Linked DNA regions of Homo sapiens: region 1 is linked to region 2. The links come from fine-mapping of genetic effects on gene expression. A gene starts in region 2. The other region holds a variant in brackets. All regions are shown on one strand. Distances are from middle to middle. Region 1 has its middle 28 kb from the start of LINC02432. Region 2 holds the start of IL15 (interleukin 15).

Region 1 (10,054 bases), 330 kb after region 2:
TCCTACATGAGGCTCTTTCAAGGTCTCTTCAGAGATTTCCTTGTTGGGACTTCCTTCACCTGCAGTTTCCTTGGTTGCAACTCCTTTCCTGGCTACTTTGCATGTCCATACTAGCAGTCCCTACTGGCCTCTTTTTTCTGTGGCCTATTTTCCTCCCTGTTGGTCCCCAGGTAAAATCTCTTCCCCCGGCACACATCTGGTCCAGGGAAACACTGGCGCAGCCCTTAGACCATGCTCTCAGGGCTCTACCTCAGGAACACTTAGCCCTTTCATTGTTCTTCCCAGTTCCTGGCCCCAATCAGATTCAGTGCATTCTGTTAGATTTATCAGGCTTCCCAAAGTAGAGGGCACATTTCAGAGCCCTCCGGGACATCTACTTGAAGTCCCTTCACTTTCTCAGTTGGTGTGTTTAGAGCCAAAATGAAGCCAGTGGGCTGAGAGGTGAGGGTTGGGGCAGGAAGAACAAGGCAGCCTAGTTGGATATGATGTCTCAGGGGAAGAGGTCAGAGTGTAAAGGGGCCTAATAAGCCAAGGTACCTGCAGGGGTGCCCACTAGAAGGCTTTCTGCAGAATGCGATGTGATCTAATTATGATTCGAAGAATAGTGTGGACAGTAGGCAGACAAGAGCAGAATCAGATATGAGGCATCACAGATAAGACCTGCTCTCATGGCCCCTGCTGATGTGTAAGGCATTTCCCCCGAACCTCTTCTGCAGGTCAAGAAGACACTTTGCTCCTTCCTTTATCCTAACCCTCTGCCCAAACCTGAGAAAAATATGACAGAGGCCCATTGCAGTTTAGAAGGTCTTTATACTAACCCCAAGATTCTCATTTAGGAAAGAGTCCATAATGGTTTCACTGGAGTGAAGCAAAGGCAACTGTACAAATATAATCAGCCCACTGAAGGTTCTGGCCTACAACATAAGAGTTTCTTCTGTTTAGCACCATCAAACACTCTCGTGACTGCACATATCAATAACTTTAAGAAGTTACCTTCTCCCCACTTGGACACAGGGTGGGGAACATCACACACCAGGGCCTGTCGTGGGGTTGGGGGAGGGGGCAGGGATAGCATTAGGAGATATACCTAATGTAAATGACGAGTTAATGGGTGCAGCACACCAACATGGCGCATGTATACATATGTAACAAACCTGCACGTTGGCACATGTACTCTAGAACTTAAAGTATAGTAAAAATAAATAAATAGAAGTTACCTTCTCCCTTTTTGGAGGGCAATTTGACCACATCTATTAAAACTTTAAGTGCTCATAAAATTTGACCTTGCAATTTTACATCTGGCATCCATCCTACAGAAACACTGAAGTCTGTGCACAGAGTTACAAACACAAGAACATTCACTTTGCATTATTTGTAATAGTGAAAATTGAAAACCTTAATGTTTCATCAGTATAATGGTTAATTAATTCATGATAATCCATATTACAGATAGTTATGCAAAAGAAGACCAATTTGAACTCATGGAAACAGTGACACGATTTATGGTTAAGTGGGGGAAAAAACTAGTTTCAGGATAATATGTATGGCAAGATCCCACTCTTGGAGAGAAAAAAAGATATATGTGTACAGTGTATGCACCTGTGTCTGTAAAGGCCCACAACAAAGTCATCAAACTATTAACAGCAGTGGCCTTTGAGAAAGGGAGTGTGAGTGGAATGAAGAGGCCAAAGAGAGAATACAGATTGCTCAGCACTTCATAGTGTGATTTAATCTTTTGTAATAATAATGCATTTGTACATTTCCTATGTGACTTTTTTTAACTAGAAAAAATAAACAACAACAAAAAAAACAAGAAATACAGAAATGTGGTTGGCCTAAAAATCTTGGGTATTACTTCTTAATTTTAACAAAAATGTTCTTACAATCCTAGTCTGGTTGCTATTCCAGCCTTTCTAAATTCCTGACCTTCACTGCTCATCAAATTCTAATTAACCTTGTGGTTCCCCAGAGTCTTGCAGGTGTCCGGACCGGCTGGTGTCTCCTGGAGCAAACCAGCCCTCCTTCTTGTGGTAGGCAACTGCCTGGGTGCTAACTCCTCGGTGACAGCAGTGTAAATGATTCCATTGGTCTTCTAGGAGGCAGGAACTTCACAGACCTCAGTGCATAATAACAAATTCAATGCTTAACAGGACTTGTCATGCATGGAAGGAGCTGCGGTCGCCACCACAGTGGTCACAGGACCACAAGTGTGAAGTGAAGAGCTGGCTCTGACAGTGATTGCTCTCTCTAAACAGGTCAGGGTTTGTTCTGCCTCAGTACAAACAAACAGTGCCCTCTTCTGCCCAGCAGCAGAACTTCTCTTCAAAACCATCACCTTGTCAGAGTATCTGGAACTTTCACCCTGTTAGGTTGTTCACTGCAAAATGAGCCAAAGAAACTGGAAAATAACACTGATGAGGGAGAGGTCATCTGTCGGAAAGCTGTCACTCTGATTCTGCCCTAAATTCATGTCCCAATTTTACAAGCATTCTATTTTAACCGCAGAGAAGATGAAAAGATTTAAATAATAGAGTAAGTTACATCTATCAAACTGGCCAAAAAAAAAAAAAATTTAAGTGCTTAAACTTTGTATTGCTATGATAAAATATTATCCATGGTATGGAATATCAGTTCAAGCTTTCTGAGAAACAGTCTGGCAGCTGGTTACCATTTTAAAAATATCCTTTATTACATTTTAGTTCAATAATTATTTATTTGGGAATATTTCATGAAAAAAATAGACACAAAGACAATGAAGTAATTTACATAAAGATGCTTAGAGCCATGTCATATTTCATTATTATATACTGAAAAACTGGAAAAACTCAAGTACAAATGGCAAGCAGTAAATAAATTGTTATATGAAGTACAATATAGTATTACAATGCTTTACTATAAAGCCATTATGAATTGTAATTTCAGGCCAGGCATAGTGGCTCATGCCTGTAATCCCAGCACTTTGGGAAGCCGAGGCACGTGGGCTGCTTGAGCTCAGGAGTTTGAAACCAGCCTGAGCAACATGGCAAAACCTCGTCTCTACAAAAAATACAAAAATTGGCCACGTGTGGCGATGCACGCCTGTGGTCCCAGCTACTCAGGAAGCTGAGGTGGGATGATTGCTTAAGCCCAGGAGGTTGGGCTGCAGTGAACCTAGATAGCACAAATGCACTCCAGCCTGGGCGGCAGAGTGATACCCTATCTCAAAACAAACAAAAAATGGTAATTTCAGGGACTGACATAATAGATTTACTGTATATATGATACTGGAAAAACATAGAATACAAAATGATGCTCATACTCTTACTATAATGCAAGTGTATACAATGGTAAAGGATTTTAGAGTAAACAGAGTTTAGTATACACTCTTATATCTAAAGATAGTTCAGTATGAAGCAATATAGAAAGGTAGGAGAGGGAAAGAAAGCAAGACAGAAAACAAAATCTATTAGCTATTGTGTCATGCCTCATTTCTAACTGCCTCATCTCAAAGTATCATTTTCTCTGTTTTGGAAGCCAGAGAAATCTATTTTACTTCACTAATAGTTTGTAAAGAGAGAGCATATCACTTATTAATGTATAAAAAAGCAAAAATAGCTTTAGAAAGAGTTGCCAAACTCCCTCTGTCCTTTCTTAAGCACACTTCACACTTTTGGCTCATACAGATAGAAGCTTTAAAATATTCTAGGTTCAATTATTAGTATTTATAATCTCTAAAGCTAAAAGACAAGTTTACTCAGAAGGTTCAGGAATGTGAAAATCAATGTAAAATGACAAAAAGTTTCATGAAACCCCTGATAAGGCTAAAATCTGACAGCTTGATGGAGACATCTCATATTGAGAGTTCAGGCAAAAACAGTGAGCTTTTGTAATTCTCACTGTTAAATTCACAATATAGTCTCAGTTCTAGCCTGGAGATATTTAAAGTATGGACTTGAAATGTCTAACAAGACACAAACCTTTGCAAGAGCTCAGCACTCTCTTCCATAAGGACCAGGATCAAAATTTATCCCATATTAAGAACCACACAAGGAGTTTGTTAAAACCTCATATTCCTGGGCCTCCTTTGCCAGAGATTCTATGTAGGTCTGTGACAAGGCCCTGGAATCTTTTTTTTTTTTTTTTTAACAAAAGCCGTGGGAGCTTCTGATGCAGCTGGCCCCTGTACTTGGATAACTATTAGTGTAGTAAACAGTAGGGTTCCTTAATTAACCTCCTTGAAAATTTGTCAGTCAGTCCCTTTGGAGCTGGGATCCAGACACTATGTTAGAAAACACAGAATTCAACCAATTCTTAACATCCCTGTTACCAGATCACTAGTCCATGCCCCACTGCCTCTTGCCTGGCCCTTGTGATGGCCTCCTCACTGGCCTCTGGTTCCTTACTCTTGCTCTTCACACAACAGTCAGAGTGGCCATCTCAAAGCCCAAGTCAGACCATGTTACTCTTACGGATTCCTAATTGTTATTTACAAGGCCCTGCATAATCTTATCTCTAGCTACTTTCCTAACCTCATTGCCTCTTCCCTTTTCCTTCTCTACTCCAGCCACAGTGATCTTCCTGCATTACTTCAACATACTAAGTGTGCCCCAGACTCAGGGACTTTGCACTTTCTGATCCCTTTGACTGGAATGCTCTCCCACTCCTGCTTGGGCTTTCTTCTCATTGGCACCCTGAAGAGAGGCCCTCCTAGTCCCCTAGTCCATTATCCTTTGTCCTCTTATTTTTCTTTTAGGCACTTGCCACATGACGCACGATATTTTTAATTGTATCTTTGTGAGAGGTGACTTTATCCATTTTATGCATGACTCAGTCTCAGCAGGTAAAGTGGTGTGTGCCATGTAAAAGGTGCTCAATAAATATCTGATGAATGAATAAATGTAGGAATTTCACATGTAGAGTCTTTGGGAAATAAAATATAGGTAGAATCTTTTGGAGTCTACTTGTAGAATCCAACTTTATATAAAAATAAGAAAGGCATAATTTGTCTGATCTGCTACATTTCTAGATTCCCCAGTGGGATTTTCATTTTAAAAAGGAGGTACTCACGCTGGGCTACAGAAATTGACATTCACATAACCCTATTCCTGTTCTGAGTCATCTTGTTGTGCTGGAAACTCAAGTGACACATATTAAAAAGAAGAAAAATTGTCGAGCCTCTTTTTCATTATTGCTGTAGTTTGAATGATTGTGTCCCCTCCAAATTTTATGTTGAAACTTAATCCCTAATGTAACAATAGTAAGAGGTGTTACCTTTGAGAGGTGATTAGGGGACTCTGCCCTCATGAATGAGGTTGGCACCCTTGTGAAAAGGCTCAGGGTTGGCCAGGCGCGGTGGCTCACGCCTGTAATCCCAGCAGTTTGGGGGGCCAAGGCGGGAGGATCACCTGAGGTCAGCAGTTTTGAGACCAACCTGGCTAACATGGTGAAATCCCTTTTCTACTAAAAATACAAAAAATTAGCCAGACGTGGTGGTGTGCGCCTGTAATCCCAGCTACTTGGGAGGCTGAGGCAGGAGAATCTCTGGAACCCAGAAGACAGAGATTGCAGTGAGCCGATATCACACCGTCGCATTCCAGCTTGGGCAACAAGAACTCT[G/TG]TCTCGAAAAAAAAAAAAAAAAAGAAAGAAAAGAAAAGAAAAGGCTCAGGGTTGAAGGGAGTGCTCTCTTGACCTTCTATCCCTTCTCCACCTTGTGAGGCAACAGTATTCCTCCCCTCTGGAGGATGCAGCAACAAGGCGCCATCTTGGAAGCAGAGAACAGCCCTCGCCGGACATCAATTCTGCAAGTGCCTCGATCATGGAATTCTAAGCCTCCAGAACCATGAGAGATAGATTTCTACTGTTTATAAATTATCCAGACTGTGATATTTTGCCATAGCAGCGTAAAAAGACTAAGATAATTATACATCCTCACTCTCCAGGTTTAAAATAGATAAATTCAGAAAGAATTTCAAATATGATGATTTTTTTTAATGTTTAACAGGTTTCTTGATGCTGCTGGTTTTTTACAGTTCTCTTGATGACTATTACGAAGGTATATGAAGAGGCAGGTGCCTTGGGAAGCTAGTGAAGCCAAAATCCCAGAGCTTCTCGCTTGCGTAGACTCCTGTGAGGGCTGGGAATTTCTGTCATGGAATGTTCCAGATGAGGAGGGGAAGCCCAGCTGCACTCAGGACACACTTCTATGTAAGCAATTCTAGTACATTGTGCAGAAATATCTAGAAACAAGGCACCCAAATCTCCCAGCTTCCAATAATTTATCAGAATTTTTCTTCTGATGGTGAGTATTTACTCTTGTCCCCAATTTTGTATTTGTAGTTTTTAAATTCATTTTTCTAAAAGGGGCCTGTGTTATATACAGTTTTTATGTGGCAGTTGATCTTGCCGTCTCACTAAAGTTGGAAAGTCCTTTGGGACTGAGATTGTGTTTTATACTTTCTCTGTTTCCCATGCCTGGGATACAACTGAGCTCATGGAGGAAGCCAAGCTAATGTTCTGGCCTTCAGTTCCCTGCATGGATCAAAACTGGTTTGGGAGGTTGTAAAGCTTTTTGGGAAATTACTTGTCCCTTGTGGTACTTGAGGATTTAGAGTGCCATACCAAACATACTGCTTTAAAACTAAAAGAAGGTTTTTTTCTTTCTTAATTGTCAGTATTTGCATTATAATATTTATTTTGAAAGATTATGTACTTTTATTTCAATTAAGGATTAAAAGTGTGGTTCTTCTGATTCCACAGGCATTTATTTTGAGTAAATATCTATCTACAAGGTAAATTATAGAAAAATATCCAGGGGCTGGGCACAGTGGCTCCTGCCTATAATCCCAGCACTTTGGGAGGCCTAGGTAGGCAGATCACTTGAAGTCAGGAGTTCACGCCCAGCCTGGCCAGCATGGAGAAAACCTGTCTCTATCAAAAATTCAAAAATTAGCCAGGCATGGTGGGGGGGCGCCTGTAATCCCAGCTACTAGAGACGCTGAGGCACGAGAATCACCTGAACCCTGGAGTGAGCTGAGATCACACCACTGCACTCCAGCCTGGGTGACAGAGTGAAACTGTGTCTCAAAAAAAAAAAAAAAAGGAAAAATATCCAGGAAGATTCATTTGTTAAGAAGTGAGAAAAAATCAGGAATTTTTAATGAAGATCTAATTTGCACTTAGTTCTTTATAATGGAGACTTATTGGCTTACATCTCTTATTTTATATAATTTTACTTACCAGTAATAAAATACTGTAAAGCATTGTTTTGATTCCAAAGGAGTATGAAGCTGTTTAGAATCAAATTTGGAAGAAAAAGGTACCGAGTCTGTCTCTGACGATTCATGAGAGGTTCAGTCTATGCTATTAAGATGCAGTTCTGGAGCAGGTGTGATGGCTCATGCCTGTAATCCCAGCACTTTGGGAAGGTGAGGCAGGAGAATTGCTTAAGCCCAGGAGATTGAGACTAGCTTGGATAACATGGCAAAACTCCATCTCTACAAAAAATACAAAAATTAACCAGGCCTGGTGGCACACACCTGTAGTCCCACCTACTTGGGAGGTTGAGGTGGGAGGATCACCTGAACACCTAGGGAGGTCAAGGCTACAGTGAGCTGTGATCACAGCACTGCACTCCAGCTTGGGCAATGTAGTGAGACCCTGTCTCATAAAAAAAAAAAGATCCTGTTATGTAGAAGCATTAGTAACTCAGTGTCAATTAGAAGTTTAGAAGTTCATGAGACTTAGACCTTGTGTATACAATCCACAAAGTCAAAGTCTCTGTAAACATCAATAAATGCTGCAGACAATCTTGTGTCAATCAGTCCTGCTAGATTTCTCCTGCTAGATTTCTCTACCAGGAGAAACCTAGCAGAGAAATCACAAGGAGATAAGTGCCATAGAAATGATCAGTAGTGAAAGAATAGTGACTAAAATTCTCTATACTTCTCATGCAGACTACCAATACAAAAAGCACATACTTGCAATTTCTCAAGGAGGACGGTGGCATAGATTGTTGACTAAAAGCTAGAAATTAATAGATCAATAATATGGAAACTTGGAGATAGATTCCATCCAGATGGAGCCATACACAACAAGAAACTGATGAGAGAAAAAAAATTGTAAGAATTAGAAAACTCCAGTCAGAGATATGGTGGTATGAAATCTTCCCTGATTGTTTTACTGGGGCTCAGTGTTTCCATCAGCTGTTCCACATGACAGCACATTACTAAGAGATAATTTGAGAGGGCCTGGATCAAAGAAGCTTGCGGCGATTGCTGTTGGCAGTCTCTATTGGCATTTTGAAATGACAGCCTCTCTGGTAACTGTCAAAATCTGGGTTCATGTCTACATTGTTATGTTTAAGCCAAAGGCATTCTTAACCCAAACTTGGCCCTTGTCACCATCTCTATTACCAAGGCCTCCCACAAGTTTTATTTTACTGAAGGGTTTGGAAAGGCATTCACAAACTTATAAAAACATTAGTGTTTCATAAGCTACCTGGTGGCTTCCATAATATTTCCATCTGCCATCTACCTCTGTAACCTGGCCAAGGAATTTTCACCTAATTGCCTTTTCAAACAAGGAATTCTAAAAAGCAATGATTGTAACTGTTTAATATACAACTGACAAAAAAGTAGCTTTCATTTTTTGTCATTCCACTGATATGAAATGAGAAGTGCATGTATGTGTATGTGTGTGTACGCAAGCATACACACATGTATATTTCTCAGGAACAAAGTCACTAATGAAATTTGACTACCTCCATTCCACCCTGCTGTTTTCAATTACACAAACTCATTAGCTAAATTATAAGGACAAGATAGCTCTAGAATTGCTACAACAATGATTAAAGTGAAGGTGAAAGATTATTTTTTACCCAGCTCAAAATATTCACCTTGAAATTGCTAGTGGGTAAGAGAAGCTAACTATCATACTATACTCTTTTTTTTTTTGAGACATTGTTTCACTCTGTCGCCCAGGCTAATGTGCAGTGGTGCAATCTCCGCTCACTGCAAGCCCCGCCTCCCGGGTTCACACCATTCTCCTGCCTCAGTCTCCCTAGTAGCTGGGACTACAGGCGCCTGCCACCACGCCCAGCTAATTTTTTGTGTAGAGATGGGGTTTCACCGAGTTAGCCATGATGGTCTCGATCTCCTGACCTCGTGATCCACCCGCCTCGGCCTCCCAAAGTGCTGGGATTACAGACATGAGCCACCACGCCGGGCCATAACACACTGTACTGTCTTAAAGGTTGCCCTGAATAAAAACCATAATTTGAGGAGTCCACATAACTAACTGGGGAAAGTGGTATATTTGGGATGAGAAGCTTCCTCAAATTTTGCTATGTAGTGATAAGAATTTGGCTCTTTCTGGCCACCTTCTGTGTCATCCTGTCATTCGCCACCATAAGTAATTGGCTACTTTCCTCCACTGTCTCTCGTTATTTTCCTCCTCCCACCTCTTTCCTTTTCCTAACTCAGTTCCCTTGCTTTGATTTTCCTTTCCCCTCTGCCTTGTCCATACCATAGCATTAACATAATCACCTAGGATTCACACTGGGTTCTAGTGTTCAAGGTTCTGAAACGGCTGGGTCAGCCATTTCTGATCCTTTTCTATCCCCAGACACATAAGGGATGTAGCAGGCAGTGCCATCAAAATCCATGGCTCTCTACAGCACTAATTTTAAGAGGTGGAGAAAGGCGTATCAGATTCTCCAACGAAAAAGAAACTTTATAGGTTGAAAACTTTTAAATGCTTCCAATGAAGATCTGATCAGCATGTTTCCCTACATTCCTTCTATGTCGTGTTGGCATCACTGGAAAGAGCCTCGCCTAATGTGGTGGCTTACGGACCAGCATCACCAACGTCACTTGGGAACTTGTTAGAAATGCAGAATCTCAGGCCTCCACCCCAGACCTACTGAATCAGAATCTGTGTTTTAACTAGATGTTCACATTAAAGTTTGAGAATCACTGTGCTCTCATGGTAGGAATATAGTAAAACCCAACATATCTAATGGTGTAAATGGCATTCAACTACTGATAACAACATATGTAATAGAATATTATGATCTTTA
Region 2 (10,054 bases):
AGAATAATTTTCACAACGAAAATCCTTCAAATAAAAAATCAAGTTTTATGTACTTATTTTTGTTGCAGATGAGTCAGGAAAATAGAAAATCTTTAACAGTAAAATGTTCAATTAAGAAAAAATCATTTGATAATTTTAGAGGTCAGTGCTAACAGTGTGCAAGGACTACTTTGTCAGATTTCTATTAGAAGGCACATAAGCAAAATACCCAGGAAGGAGAAGTAGCATTCAGTGATATAAGGGACCAAAGACCCTCTCTGGGCTCCTTTCGTGTGTCACAATGATAAGCAGAGCTTACCCCCACCACCACCGCCATCAACCTTACAACCATCATATTTTCCTGTTCTACAACCATTTTCAGTTTCAATTCCCTCATTTCACAAAATAATTTGTCACTTTCCTGATTTTGTCTGCACCCTGTCAGCACTTGGAGGAACTATTAGCATTTAGAGAAGAAACAACTGTGTATTACATGCAGACTTTTTAAAAATCCATTTTTATACGGTCTACATAGAGTCTTCTGCCCCTGCAGTGGGATGAAACACTATAAAATAAATGCATACAAATACCCTGGCTCTGGATGTGAAATGTGGACAAATAATATTATTGAACTAAACTGAGATTAAAGAGCCTCTTTTTCTCCTCTTTCTGACTCCAGCACTAAACAACTTTTTTTTTTGTTTGTTTAAAAAAGGGCAATATTCTTTGACATAGGCAAATTCATAAATAGCATTAAATCACCCCAAATGGTGACCAGGGTCTATTTCAAGGTAAGGATAGCAGCATTTTAGTTGTCAGTACACTGAACACCTGAGTTTTCTTAGAAGAGAATGCATATGATATCCGAAAAGGAGCATTAACATTAGAATCAAGATAAATCTCAGTGGAGTGTCTGTCTTACCTAGTTGTGTCCTAATGCAAGCAAAACTCTGCATGTCTTTTTTTTTTTTTCTTTGTAAATTCAGGATAAAAATGCAATGGTTATTCAAATTCAATGAGGACATACAGATGAAGTGCCAGTATGGTGGCTGAAACATAGCAGAGGCTTCCTCTTTGAAACTTTCAAATTCACATTAGGTTCCTACTGGAATGGCACTGTTAATAACAATAATTTGTCCTTCAGGCTTTCTGTCAAGATTTCTTAGCTTCTTATGTTTATATATTCAATACAGTCTGGAAGCTGAGTAAAAAGTAAACCTTGTCTGCCCACAGCTGTTAACAAATAGTACAGTACAATATATACATACACACACATATATGCACATACACAGTATATATACACATATAGTCATATATGCACACATATAGACATATAGTTGATAGTATTTAATTAGTGAAATTTACCATCAAATAGGTGTTAGTGCATTCCAGTACTCACTAAAATAACAATTTTTCCTTCAACTCCTCTATGGAATTTTTCCATCCAACCCATTCCTATAGGACAGCAGCAAGTATTTAAGCAATGTTCAGTGTCAGTAGTCTCATGCAGTTACTGTAATCAACGGGTAAGTAAATCAAAGAGCTAATATCGAGCAAAAGAAGTGGCTTCTTGCCAAACCTTCTACCATAATGCCTTCTGAAGAGAGGATGTCCCAAATAGTTAACTATATCATCTCCAGTTGGGATATTATGGGAAACTCTTCTTCTCTGACCTCTCCATGAATCCCAGACTTCTAGTTGTATGGAAGAAGGGATACATAGATAGGCAGAGACAGATATCTAGATCAATCCACATTTGCCTACTATTTGTCAGGCTCTTTCAGCAGAAAGTGATGCAGATTAGACAAATGTTTTCATTCAGGGACCATAAAGGAAATTTCTCCAATATACCAAACACATATTTGACACTCAAATGAATATTATTTGATTATAAAGATAATCTTTAAATATATAATAATGTCAATTGCACAAGTACCATACAAACATTACTTTAAAACCGGCATTCTACCATTACAACGCTGCCTGAAAATAAGTAGGGATTATCACTGTCAAATTGTACGAAATATTTGTATGCAAATAATACCATCCTCCATAAATACCACCAGTCTTAAACTTGTCTCAGTTGGAATTCCAACTCTACCACTTTCTAGCTCTGTGACCTTGATAATTTCCTCAGCTGTAAAATATATTGCCTACCACATAAGTTTATTACGATGTTTTTAAAAAATACATCCTTAGAACAATGTCTGATACATAATAAGAACTCAACAATGTTAGTTATTATTCATACTGTTTCTCATAACTTAAGTTATAGGTCTGAAGACAGAACTCTGTATTATGATCAGCTAACCTTCAGAAAAATAGTTAACACAATGAGCAGAACTCAACATTAAACTCCAGGAGAGATGAGGGGAAAAGGACAGTAGTCTATATTTTCAAAAGATTTAAAACTCTTTTGGGTCAGAGACCCATTTAAAAAGCTGATCAAAGTTACGGATATTTTCCTGAGAAAAATCCACATGTACCCAGCATTTCAGGGCTGCTCTTCTAGCTGTCCTGAAATTCATCAGAGGCAGCAAATCTGAGATGGAGTATCCCGTAGGCTTTAAAACCTTCCACTTCCAAAATCTATTTCGATAAACCTTAAACCACTGTTTTCTCCATCCCCCAAGGAAATTTATAAACATTGTGCCTTGCAATATAGCTGTTGACATTGGCTACATTAATTTCATGGATTAAAACAAAAGAGCATCATTTTAATCACCAGTAGTCTGCAGGAAAATTCCAACCAGAACTATAGCTTCCAATCAGGTTCTGGAGTTGCCACTCCAAATCAGCAAGGAACAGTGAAACCAAAAGTATGGGAACACCCTGCCTATCAGAAGTTCCAGACCAATGGTCAACTGACCCTTCTCTGTCACTGTTGCAAAGCAGATGATACTGCAGGAGAGACTTTTCTGATTGACTAAAATTCTGTGAGAATTTTACACGAATAAGGACCCGAAACTAAGACAATCATAACAAACCTTAAGATCTCTATGATACTTGTTAACTTTAAGCAAAACTAGCTTTTTCTTCACTTTTTAAATCTAAATGGCTTTTGCTGTATTTTCAGTTCTTCTCTTTATATGTCTTTATGTTCCTTCCCATGTATTTCCTTGCTCTGTTGGCCACATTACTTCACACGAAAACAACAGGAGTTTAAAAATTTAACCTGTATTATATCTTTTTTATTCATTTATTTATTTTTTGACAGGCTGGAGTGCAGTGGCAGATCATATAGCTCACTATAAACTGGAACTCCTGGTCTCAAGCTATCCTCTCGCCTCGGCCTTCCAAAAGTGTATTGTATCTTGATGCTTTCAGTAGAATGGTTCACCTTATAACCTCTACATGGCAGGATGCATAATCACCAGTTTATTCTGTAATACCTGAGCAAAAATTCAGCCTAGCTAATATGGCCTCTTTCACCACACTGACAAGATAAGGATGACGTCCACTTAGTTGGCCACCACCAGTATCATAATATTAGATAGTAGTTTAAAAATATATAATGGAAACTAGCTGGTGACCACCACTTTACTTCCAGTTTTGAAATTGCTGACTCATCCTATTTAAGAATCTGTTGTAAGCATCATTTAAGAATTAGTTTGGTTTAGACATACTTTGAAGTCAACATAGTTTTTAATGCATGGAATTACATAAAGTCAAATGAACTATATACCCTTGCTACATGCGGTCTTAATAACACTTGAAAAAATTGGCTGGATTTTCATTTAAAAGCCACCTTGAATAATGATTTTATTTCAGTGAAATTCGCTCGTATTTTTTCCAAGTTCCTTCGACATTCTAGATACACTATCGCTTCTCTAAGAGATAACTGGCTGGCGCAGAGTTGGAACCAATACAGACCCAGGCCTGACTGCCAAGCACTGACCATTCCTGCAAATTTCTCTCCCAGAAGACGTGTGCAAGCAAAGAAGAGGGCGATAATTTGATTTTGCAAAGGTAGGGATAGACGCGCACGCACAGACATCTGCACCGGCCCACAATGAGTTTGGGACGGGAGCAGTTAGGAAGTGGGGAGCTGCGGTACCTTTTCTTGGCCTTCCTGAGCTTGACTGGGTGCAGAACTCAGCCCTCAGGGCTGCGGGACAGCGTCTTCTCAGAAACCCGCAGCTTGGCTGGGGCCGCCAGACGCGCGTCCCTCACCCTCCCAGCGGAGCGCGGGGTGCCCGGCCCGCCTTGCGCTAGCCAGCAGCCTGGAACGCCGTAAGAGCGCAGCGCAGTAGGGAGTCGCACGCCAGGGGCAAAGGGACCTGCGATCTGCGCTCCTCCGGAAGCGGGAGGATGGCTAGGAGAGCCTCAGAAGTGTCATTAAAGGAAAAACCAAAAATTGAAGTTGCGGCTAAGTTTTCCCCATGAGAAGGCGGGGCAGCTCGGCCAGTAGGATAGACCGGAGGGTAACGCTGGAGCTGGGAGGGGCCCTGGGCGTAGGCTTTCGGGGAAAATTCCATCGCCCTTTCAACCACCACCACTCCCCTCCCAAGGCAAAGAAGCCGAGCTCTGTACCTCCATCGAGTCCTGGCTGCAGGGTGGGGGGCGACAGCCACCGCAGCCGGGAGGGTGCGGCCACCCAGTTCCCTCCCGGGGGGCGCCGGACTTCGAAGGCAGTGAGCGAGTCAGCTGGGATTCCCCCGGGCGCCTGCCACCCGGAGTCCCAACCCCTGGCGAAAAGAAAAGTGAAAGAGAAAGAGCCGGGAGCATAGGCGAAGACAAACACCTCCCGCGGAGACTGGGGGTGGGGCGGGTGGCGGCGGCTCCTGGATGACTGACTGCCCCAGGTGTCACTGCTTCCCGGCCTGTTTCCGTCCCTGCCGGGGCCTGGGGCGCAGAACTTGCAGGGCAAGCGCAAGGACATCGAGGAGCCCCAGCCCCGCCCTGCAGGAACACCAGCCACCGGTCTCCTCCTCTACCTGCCGGGACACCTGCAGAGAAGGCACAAGGATAGCCGCATCCCAAGCGACGGGCACCATGTGGGAAGCTTCCGCAGCTGAACCTGGAGACCCGGGCTGGGCTGGCGCGCATCCAAGTCTTCCTGAGGAAAGGGAAAAGGATGTCGGATCTGGATGCTGGGCGGCTACTCTAGACCGGCCTCTTGGTCCCCGCACAGGCTGCAAGAAGGAAACTTTGAAGTCCAACTAGGGGAAATGTTGGAAGAAGACACCCGGGTGGCAGCTTTGTGCAAGACAGTTGGTACAGGGAGTGAACTTAGAGCAATGAGCCTCTCTGCGGATCACTTTTCCAGCCTATTGTGTAGTCCAGTGTAAAATATCACACATGGTCCCATTTGATGGAAGCGTGAGATGTTGTTCTTGTAGTATTTTTACATTGGAGGAAGGAACTGAGTTGAGGCTGAGTGATTTGCATGCCATAAAGGCAGTAGCAAAGATCTCACGCTTAGTTTTGAAAGTACTTTGCAGAATCTTGCACTCTTGTGAATCACTGAAAATCCCTCTTGTACGGTGCTTTCCAAATTTTCAGAGTCATGGTTCAGAGAAAATGATGTCTTCCTGGAGCGCAGTTTAATTTAGTTTAAAATTTAATTATGTTTTTAATTACATAAATATGATAAATATCAAATAGAAAAATAATAGAAATTATTCACTTTCCATGTACATAAAGTTCCGTATAATATAATTTCATATTTTTATGAAAAATTTGAGTTTATTTTCATTAACTCAATTTTTTGATATCAGTTTTATATTTGAAATAATTACTGATGGACTTTTTGATGAGAATTACATCAAACTCTAGATAGTCTCCATTAACAAAATAAGTGAGGTATAAAAATGCAAAAACAGTTTTTACAACCATTCAAAATTTCACCATAGTTGGAAATTATATTTAAGAATATGAAGCCATCATCCATTTCTGTTCATGACGATGTCATGTTGAATTTTCTTGTGATGGTGTCAATGGATTTCAAGACCAGTCAGAATTTTTCATAGCAATACATTGAAGCTCTGATTTGCAGAATGAGCATGCACTGGGAGAGCAAGACTGCAGCTGGTTTGGATCTCACCACAAGAATATAGCAGCCACGGAAGGACTGATATGCATATGTGTGAAGATAGAGAATAGGGATGAACAAGTGTATCATGTGTCCCAACCTCATTTTGGACTGTTGCAGAGCTTCCTGGACTCCTGCCATGTAAACTCCTCTAGCACCTCTTTCAGCTCCTTTAATGGATACTGTGTTCTCTGCAGCCGGTGAAGGAAGCAGGTGTCCACGCTCAGCACCACCTAGCAGAGCTCAATATCAGATATTGCTGCTGCCAGAGGACATATCATCACATCTCAGATCCTGTCTCTCTTGGACTGCCCACAAACTCTATAGAAAGTGCTCTCAGCTGGTGCTCACTAGCCTGTGGGCTTCAGCTTTGTTAGCTGTCTGCAGGACTCAGGGCCATCAGTATCTGACTGCATACTTTTAATATATTGAGACCACCAAGAACGTTCTGAGCTACTAGAGAGTTTTCACAACACTATGAAATTGACGGAAAGTTTACTTGTAGGGTGAACTTAAGGCATAATCTGAGTATATAACAGTAAGAAAATTGGTCTACAACTGTTTATTGGGTTTCAACTATAGTAGGTTCTAGAACAAGATGGACTAAATGATATATAAAGCATTTTGTCAGAGTAGGGAGATAAAAAACATAAATAACAGTAAAGTACAACTAAAAATTATTATAGTCATAAGATATGCTTTGCTCTACTATTTGCCTCCCAAATATGTTGGTCAAATTTGTTTTCATAAATACAGATGTTTTAAAAGTATTTTTAATTAGTTATGAGTGCCTGCAGTTCAATGAAGTTGGGTTTGCAACATAATTTGTTTTTGTTGCATTGCACTCAAAAAGAAAAGTCTAATGTATGCAACTTGTGTTTTCAGTTGCCACAGGCTGTTTGGCAAAATATTGAAAATTACTCATACCAATGAACAAGTAAATTCTGCTGCATAAATTAAAAGCAAAGATGAAGATTGATGAAATAATTTGAAACTGTCTTAAGATAACTAATAAAATTACAGGGTAGAAAGAAGTGGAGATTAACTAAATCTCATAGAAGTGACCATAATAATCTTCCTGAATTCAAATAATTAACAATAAAATTATAGTTTAATAAATTTTTAATATCTTTTTTCAAAAACAATGTCAATTGGGCAATCATCTTTAAAATAAATTACTAATAATTTATTTTCTAGCTTTTGTGATTACATGGAAGAAGTTACAAGTTATTTCATCTGATTTAGTGTTCAAAGTCCATGACTGTGGCCTTATTTATGGTTTTACTAAGATTTAAACCTCCCATCAAGAACAAGTTGATCCCCTGCTCTTTGGAAAACATGGCCTGCCTGGGTTCTCTACATTTCCATTCGGGGTAAAGCATGCTGAAATGCAGCATTACCTCGAAGTTGCTTCTCACATTTTTTTCTGGTGATCCTGACAATAGACAGATACTCTTGGCCTTAAATACTATTTAGGTTTTCAAGAGCTCCTCAAGTTGCTGCTTTTTCAGAACCACAACAGTATTAGTTAGGACTTCTGTAGTTCCTCCAATCTGCTATTTCTCCAGTGCTGTGCTAAACACAAATGTTAACTTATTAAATCCTCACAGCAAAGCTATGAGATATAAACTATTATTATCTCCATTTTACAAATGGGAAAACCAAGGCCCAAAGAATTATACAGCTTGCCTAAGATCACATGGAAATTGACTGACCCAGCAAGGATTTGAACTCAGACAGTCTGGCTTGAATACACATTCCTACTCTCTGGTGCCTTTAAATTGGCAGCCATTCTCCACTGTTTCTAAAACTGAATTCATAAGGAAAGAAGCGTGGACCCCCAGACAGTATGTCTTAGTCCAATTTTGTTTGCTTCAGGGTAACTTTAGTCACCACCAGGCAGGAAACTTTTCAGTTTTCCTTGAATTTCTGCTTTCTCATCTTAAGTTTCTGTAATGAAACTGCAATAGATATTGCAGCCCTGCTACTAACATAAGTTATTTGAATAAAGTGACTGACAAAATGCTGGCAGAACATTGCTGCAGGTTTGAAACAGAGGAACTAGGAGCTGGCAGATTCTGATAGAGATGGGTGACTTTGAACTGAAATGTCAGAGTGTACCCATGACAAACAAGGAGAAAAGATGTCTAGTTTCAAGCTGGAGATTAAGAACAATAATAACTGTATTAGTCAGGGTTCTCTAGGGGGACAGAACTAATAAAATATATGTATATATGAAAGGGAGTTTATTAAGGAGAATTGACTCATGATCGCAAGGTAATATTCCATGACAGGCCGTCTGCAAACTAAGGAGCAAGGAAGCCTGTGGTGGATCAGTCTAAGTCCCAAAACCTCAGAAGTAGGGAAGACAACAGTGCAGCCTTCAGCCTGTGGCCTAAGGCCTGAGAGTCACTGGCAAACCACTGATGTAAGTCCAAGAGTCCAAAAGCTGAAGAACTTCGAGTCTGATGTTTGAGGGCAAGAAGCATCCAGCACGGGAGAAAGATGAAGGCTGGAAAACTGAGCAAGTATAAACCTTGCTTGTTTTTCTGCCTACTTTATTCTAGCTGTGCTGGCAGCTATTTAGATGGTGCCTACACATTAAGGGTGGGTCTGCCTCTCTCTGTTCACTAACTCAAATGTTAATCTCCTTTGTCAACACCCTCACAGACACACCGAAGGGTAATACTTTGCTTCTTTCAATTCAATCAAGTTGACACTCAATGTTAACCATCACAATAACATACTTAATTTTTAATATATTTAAAAGTACATGTTATCTTAAATGCATTGGTACTTAATGTAGGGCGGAAGGGGCTTAAGTAGAAAAAAGTGACAAGTTCATATGCTACCAGTACTATTCTGAACAGTCATTTAATGTTGACCTTAACAATTAAAATCTAGTTACAAAACATTAATAAACCTATTTAGATTTATAATCTGAGAGTATATTATAAATGTATGTAATGGATCTTGTCAGCATTTATTTTAATGACAAATTGTAAAAAGGAATTTTACTTCTCTTCACATATATTGGCTAAAACATGGCAAATACATATTCCTTGAATTTGTTCTATGATTAAAATTCACGCATTTTTTACAACACATAATAACCTTTACAAAAAGTGTAAATCAAGTCAATACCAATAATAGGTTTATGTTAACAAAGTTAAACTGGCATTGGTTTTGACTCTATGGCTAGCAAATAGTTGGCCTTCAATAAATATTTGTTATATTAATCTTGGTTAAAAAAAACCCTCTTGTTTCATAGTTTAAATACTTGCTAGAATCAAAATCTAGAAACTTATAGATATGTGTGTATGTATGTGTGTATATATGTATGTATGTAAAAAAGCTCTTTCCATTATCATGAAATGATTTGATAATTTGTATATTTGTGTAACTTCATTCTGTGGTTTATGTGTGTTTAATCCTACAATCACTTTTCATTAAATTGTCAACTAAAATTTCTTCATAATATATATTAAAATTAGTTCTAATTACTGGTTAAAGTATCAATATAGGGTTCTGATCACTGGCTAAAATATCATTGATTTTGTTATTATGGTTGTGTGGGAAATTACCTTGATGAAATGGTAGCCTCCAGTTACTACCCTAAAAGTCTCAGAATAGAAAAACTTGCAGACCAAATAAAGATGCCCAAATAACATGGTATATTAAATGAATTTAAAACACACAATGAGATGTAAAAAAATGGGGTACCAGGTTAACACAAAGTGTAGGGTACAATTGTGTGAAAGGATCTCACTACCCAAATCCTGAATTATATAATCTTCACATAAACACAGCTATCTCCCTCCCTATGTTTCTCAGTCTCTGCCATGTCAACCTTCTCTGCTGATGCTGTGGTGACAGGGACCAAGGCTGAGGTTTGAATAAGAATGGAATGCACAGACGGAAGTTACCTAGGGCCAAAACACACACTCTCCCAGAGAGTGTGTTAGTCTGTTTTCATTTCCATAAAGGAATACCTAAGACTGGATAATTTATAAAGAAAAGAAGTTTAATTGGCTCATAGTT

What was found.
Region 1: its variant is fine-mapped to the expression of IL15 in whole blood (INTERVAL, PIP 0.93).

What each region holds. Positions count from the first base shown.
Region 1 is chr4:141,299,586-141,309,639 of GRCh38, reverse strand. No RefSeq gene overlaps it. Among named protein-coding and RNA genes, the nearest start is that of LINC02432, 28 kb to the left of the region's middle. The variant G/TG (reference allele first, on the strand shown) is at 5,596.
Region 2 is chr4:141,631,207-141,641,260 of GRCh38, reverse strand. IL15 (interleukin 15) reads right to left here and starts at 4,678. Exons shown (of 8, transcript NM_000585.5): 1 at 4,513-4,678. RefSeq lists an enhancer at 4,676-4,765.